2 linked regions of the Homo sapiens genome follow. The protein of the gene in region 1 purifies or fractionates together with the protein of each later gene. This does not show direct contact. Each region holds a gene or a part of one and is shown on either strand. Other genes may lie near its edges.

Evidence for each region. Proteins that work in one complex are often made in the same cells at the same time.
Region 2: the proteins of H2BC12L (region 1) and ELK4 purify together in Homo sapiens (co-immunoprecipitation; one large-scale study listed by IntAct). This does not show direct contact.

The regions. Positions count from the first base shown.
Region 1 is NC_000021.9:43,563,525-43,566,148, forward strand, and holds H2BC12L (histone H2B type F-S), read left to right. Parts: upstream 1-1,657; 5' UTR 1,658-1,714; coding exon 1,715-2,095; 3' UTR 2,096-2,124; downstream 2,125-2,624. UniProt on the Homo sapiens protein: Core component of nucleosome. Nucleosomes wrap and compact DNA into chromatin, limiting DNA accessibility to the cellular machineries which require DNA as a template.
Region 2 is NC_000001.11:205,622,007-205,625,663, reverse strand, and holds part of ELK4 (ETS domain-containing protein Elk-4), read left to right. Parts: intron 1-2; exon of another isoform or gene 3-279; intron 280-1,772; 5' UTR 1,773-1,781; coding exon 1,782-1,988; intron 1,989-3,657. UniProt on the Homo sapiens protein: Involved in both transcriptional activation and repression. Interaction with SIRT7 leads to recruitment and stabilization of SIRT7 at promoters, followed by deacetylation of histone H3 at 'Lys-18' (H3K18Ac) and subsequent transcription repression.

The sequences.
Region 1 (2,624 bases):
TTACATATAAATGTCAATGTGTGTTACTCTGGAAACAACATGAAGGACATCTCTACAATTACTTCTCTGCAGTAAAGAAGAAAAAATTAAATGGGCCAAGAAAAACATCCCATTGAATTTTTTAAAACTAGTTTTATAAACCAACTGTATTAGTCCATTTTCACGTTGCTGATAAAGACATATCTAAGACTGGGAAGAAAAAGAGGTTTAATGGACTTACAGTTTCACATGGCTAGGGAGGCCTCACAATCATGGTGGAAGGTAAGGAGGAACAAGTCACATCTTACATGGATGGCGGCAGGCAAAGAGAGAGCTTGTGCATGGAAGTTTCCATTTTTAAAACCATCAGATCTCATAAGACTTATTCACTATCACGAGAACAGCACAGGAAAGATTCACCCCCATGATTCAATTATCTCCCACCAGGTCCCTCCCAGAACACATGGGAACTGTGGGAACTACAAGATGAGATTTGAGTGGGGACACAGAGCCAAACCATATCATTCAGCCCCTGGCCCCTCCCAAATCTCATGTCTTCACATTTCAAAACCAATAATACCTTCCCAACAGTCCCCTAAAGTCTTAACTCATTCAGCATTAACTCAAAAGTCACAATCCAAACTCTCATCTGAGACAAGGCAAGTCCCTTCTGCCTATGAGCCTATAAAATCAAAAGTAAGGTAGTTACTTCCTAGATACAATGGGGATACAGGAATTGGGTAAATATAGCCATTCTGAATGGGAGAAATTGGCCAAAACAGAGGGGCTACAGGCCCCATGCGAGTCCAAAATCCAGCAGGGCAGTCAAATCTTAAAGTTCCAAAACAATCTCCTTTGATTCCATGTCTCACATCCAGGTCACGCTGATGTAAGAGGTGGGCTCCCATGGCCTTGGGTAGCTCCACCCCTGTGGCTTTGCAAGGTATAGCCCCTCTCCTGGCTGCTTTCATGGGCTGGCATTGAGGGTCTTCGGCTTTTCCAGGTGCACGGTGCAAGCTGTCAGCGGATCTACCATTCTGGGGTCTGGAGGACGGTGGCCCTCTTCTCACAGCTCCCCTAGGTGGTGCCCCAGTAGGGACTCTGTGTGGGGGCTCCAACCCCACATTTCCTTTCTGCACTGCCCTAGCAGAGGTTCTCCATGAGAGCCCCATCCCTGCAGTAAACTTCTGCCTAGACAACCAGGCATTTCCATACATCCTCTAAACTCTTGGCAGAGGTTCCCAAAACCCAATTTTTGACTTCTGTGCACTGACAGGCTCAATACCACATGGAAGCTCCCAAGGCTTGAGGCTTGCACCTTCTGAAGCAGGACCTGAGCACTATGTTGGCCCCTTTCAGCCATGGTTGGAGTGACAGGGACACAGGGCACCAAGTCCCTAGGCTGCACAAAGCACAGGGACCCTGGGCCTGGCCCATGAAACCACTTTTTCCTCCTAGGCCTCTAGGCCTATGATGGGATGGGCTGCCACAAAAGTCTGTGACATGGCTGGAGACATTTTCTCCACTGTCTTAGGGCTTAACATTCAGCTCCTTGTTACTTATGCAAATTTCTTTAGCCAGTCTGAATTTCTCCTCAGAAAACAGGATTTTCTTTTCAATCGCATTGTCAGGCTGCAAATTTTCCAAACCACTTCCCTTATAAAACTGAATGCCTTGCATTACTTCCCGTTTTCACGATCTGCTGCTCGTCTCAGGCTCGTAGTTCGCCTTCAACATGCCGGAGCCAGCGAAGTCCGCTCCCGCGCCCAAGAAGGGCTCGAAGAAAGCCGTGACTAAGGCGCAGAAGAAGGACGGCAGGAAGCGCAAGCGCAGCCGCAAGGAGAGCTACTCCGTATACGTGTACAAGGTGCTGAAGCAGGTCCACCCCGACACCGGCATCTCCTCTAAGGCCATGGGAATCATGAACTCCTTCGTCAACGACATCTTCGAACGCATCGCAGGTGAGGCTTCCCGCCTGCCGCATTACAACAAGCGCTCGACCATCACCTCCAGGGAGATCCAGACGGCCGTGCGCCTGCTGCTGCCCGGGGAGTTGGCCAAGCACGCCGTGTCCGAGGGCACCAAGGCCGTCACCAAGTACACCAGCGCTAAGTAAACTTGCCAAATTGATGCCTGCAGCTCCTGGGGAAAGTGGAAGTCAGATAACTCCTTTATGAAAAGGCAGCATTCAAAAACTATAAAAAATATAAATCCAACATTATTAAAATTTTGCACATCCAAAGATATCACGAACAGTTAAAAACAAACCCACAAGGTGACAGAATATATTTGTCACATACTGACAAAAAGTTAAAACTCAAATATATAAAGAATATTTACAAATCAAATCTCATAAAATAAAAACTGTAGAGAATCTGAATAGACCATTCCAAGGAAAGTGGGAAAATCTCCAAATAGCCAAAAATCTCATTTAGAAAAACTCCGATTTCACATTAGGAAATGCTGATAAACAATAACTCTCAAGCACTGCTGGTGGAATATGGGAGTATAAATTTAAAATACTACCCTGGAAAGCAAATTGTTCATTTTTATTCATGTTGAATATGCACATTTACCAAATAATTCCACTTCCATGTAACCAGAAAATGCACAGCTGTATACAGTGCTGTTTTGTAATGAGGAAA
Region 2 (3,657 bases), on another chromosome or scaffold:
AACTGACCAGCTGTGAGATCAGAAGGCACCAGGTATTTCTTTTGGTCCAGGTCTCCTATCCGAGCTTTGGGAGCCTTTTCTACTATCACCGGCACCCGGTCCGGGTATTTCTTTCCAGTCTTCTTGCTCTCGGAGCCGCCCGTTTCTTGAACGGATGCTCTTCTTTGTACACGAATTTCATCCTGTTGGGAACCCGGCTGAACTAGGCTGGGCTGAAGGAACCTGGGGGAGCCGGGAGGTGGGTGGCAGTGATAGTGGCGACAAGTAGGCAGATTCAGCCAATGTAGAGCATTTTTTCGTGTGTTTATTGGCTATTTGTATATCTTCTTTGCTATGATGTCTTTTCAAATTCTTTGCTTTTTTTTTTTTAGTCGTAGGCGTTTTTTAATATATTTTGGATGCAGGCTCCCTTTGTGATACATGGTTTGAAAATATTCTCCCATTTGGGGGATTGTCTTCTCACTTGATGGCATTATTTGCAGCACAACAATTTTAAATTTTGTTGTAGTCCAGTTTTGATCTGTTCTTGTAGTGTTTTAATGGTATTGATATAATTTGTTTTCAAACTCTATTCTAACCCATTGAGATCTCATTACTAGAGAAAGGAAGGTTTTTTGTTTTTGTTTTTTTTTGTGTGTGTGAAGTATTCAATCATAAGATTCTTAGGACACACTTATACGGATTTGGCCAGAGTTTCTGCCCTAAAGAATTCTTCCTAATAGAAAGGTGTTTTGAAATTGTATGAGGAAAATACCTTTATGAGAGAGCATTCCTTGCTGCTCCTTTGCCTAAACCAATGGTTATCTACCGGGATGACTTTGACCCCTGGGGGAATATTTGGCAGTGTCTGGAGATATTTTTGATGGTCTCAATGGGGCAGGCGGTGCTACTGGCATCTAGTGGGTAGAGGCCGGGTATGCTGTTAGACAAACTGCAGTGTACAGGACAGCTTCCCACAACAAAGAATTATCTGGCCCCCAAAACCAATAATGCCAAAATTGAGAAACTCTGGCCTAAACAGGGAGATCCTGAAACTTAAGATATTAAAATATTTTTCTTCAATCCATGCCTTGATAATCACATAAAGATTGCTAATCAAAGGAGAATCTTTGCAGATGGAATCACTGTGGACAGAACAGTGACAGAAAAGAGAACACTTTGCTGAATTCAAAATGCTGCCAATTTGTATGTAAATGACATTTATGGTGATGGAAACCAGTTGGAGCAAAAGTAGATTATTCCCTACACCTCAGTCCCTGGGCCACCCTGAGATAGACACAAACACATACACTCACAGGCAGATAACCAAACCGGGTTGATTTAGACAGATGCTGGAATGGTGGTCTCCTGAGAGAATACAGCAATGAGATTTTAGGATTCAAATTTAACAACAGTGATTGACAGTCACTAGTGATTGACAATCATTGTTTTTTCCTATAATTTAGGGAACTAGCTTTATCCTCCTTGCAAGTTGCTTGTTGCTTAAGACATTTCTTAAGCAGCGTGGCATCCTTAAGAGTTTGGATTCTGGGTCCAGATTGCCTGGGCTTAGATCTTAGCTTCACCGTTTACTTGTGTGATGTTGTACAAGTTCCTTAACCCTCTTATGAATCAGTTTTTTCTTACGTAAAATGAGGATGCAGTAGTATCTACCTTATAGAAATGTGGGGATGAATTAATACATTTAGAGCACTTAAAACAGTGCATGACATACAGTGTTAAATAGGTGTTGGCTGTTAATATTATCACATATCTTATCTATATTCTTTCAGCTCATTGCTATGGACAGTGCTATCACCCTGTGGCAGTTCCTTCTTCAGCTCCTGCAGAAGCCTCAGAACAAGCACATGATCTGTTGGACCTCTAATGATGGGCAGTTTAAGCTTTTGCAGGCAGAAGAGGTGGCTCGTCTCTGGGGGATTCGCAAGAACAAGCCTAACATGAATTATGACAAACTCAGCCGAGCCCTCAGATACTATTATGTAAAGGTAGTACACATCCTGATCTTATACTATACAGAGAACCTCCAGACAAGAACGATTCCTTCTTGGCTGGGCACAGTGGCTCACGCCTGTAATCCCAGCACTTTGGGAGGCCAAGGAGGGTGGATCACCTGAGGTCAGGAGTTCAAGACCAGCCTAACCGATGTGGTGAAACCCTGTCTCTACCAAAAATACAAAAAAAACGTTAGCTGGGCGTGGTGGTGGGCACCTGTAATCCCAGCTACTCAGGAGGCTGAGGCAGGAGAATCGTTTGAACCCGGGAGGCGGAGGTTGTAGTGAGCCAAGATTGTGCCATTGCACTCCAGCCTGGGTGACAGTGAGACTCCGTCTCAAAAAAAAAAAAAAAAAGATTCCTTGTTTTCTGTTGAGGTTATAGATACCAATTTCCTAGTTTATTTTAATCCAGTGTATTTTGTAGCTTCAGCAGTTTGGAATTAGGATACAAGGTATAAATGTTCCGGCTGAATCTCTACCAAATCTTCTTCTTTTTTTTTTTTTTTTTTGAGACGGAGTCTTACTCTGTCGCCCAGGCTGGAGTGCAATGGTGCGATCTTGGCTTACTGCAACCTCTGCCTCCAGGGTTCAAGCTATTCTCCTGTCTCAGCCTCCCAAGTAGCTGGGATTACAGGTGGCCACCACCACGCCCAGCTAATTTTTTATTATTTATTTATTTGTTTATTTTTTTAGTAGAGGTGGGGTTTCACCATGTTGGCCAAGTTGGTCTTGAACTCCTGACTTGAGGTGATCCACCTGCCTTGGCCTCCCAAAGTGCTGGGATTATAGGCGTGAGCCATCACAGCCAGCTGCCCCAGATTTTATTTATTAACTTACTCCCATTACACATATTTTATTCCTAATTACAGTTGTCTTTAAAAGAAAAAATATGTACAGAATTGGAATATGACAAAGGCAATTTGAGATTCTTGAGGATAAGTAAATATTCTCATGTGTGTCATAATTTACTTTAAAAATTGTGAAGCCTGGAGTAGTGGCTCATGCCTGTAATGCCAGCACTTTGGGAGGCTGCAGCAGGAGGATCACTTGAGCCCAGAAATTTGAGACCAGACTGGGCAACACAGGGAGACCCCGTCTCTACAAAAAACAGTGTGGCGCGGTGGTGTACACCTGTAGTCCCAGTGCCCAGGAGGCTGAGGCAGGAGGATCACTTAAGCTCAAGTGGTTGAGGCTGCAGTGAGCCATGATCACACACCACTGCACTCCATGAGAACCCTGTCTTGTTGGGGAGAAAAGTCATATATGTACATATACACACACACATATATCTACATATATACGTTTTATATCTTAATTTTTAGTTTTAGTTTAACCCAGGGAACACAAATTAAAACCTTATACCTTAAGTAGTAGCTGTTTATACACAGAGTTGGTTTTTTAGTTAAAATTGCTGAGATCTTAATTTCTTTCACTTTTTTTTGTTTGTTTGTTTGAGACGGAGTCTTGCTCTGTTGCCCAGGCTGGAACACAGTGGCGTGATCTCAGCTCACTGCAACTTCTGCCTCCCAGGTTCAAGTGATTCACCTGCCTCAGCCTCCCGAGTAGCTGGGACTACAGACATGCACCACCACACCTGGCTAATTTTTGTATTTTTGGTAGAGATGGGGTTTCACCATCTCTACGGGAGGCTGGTCTTGAA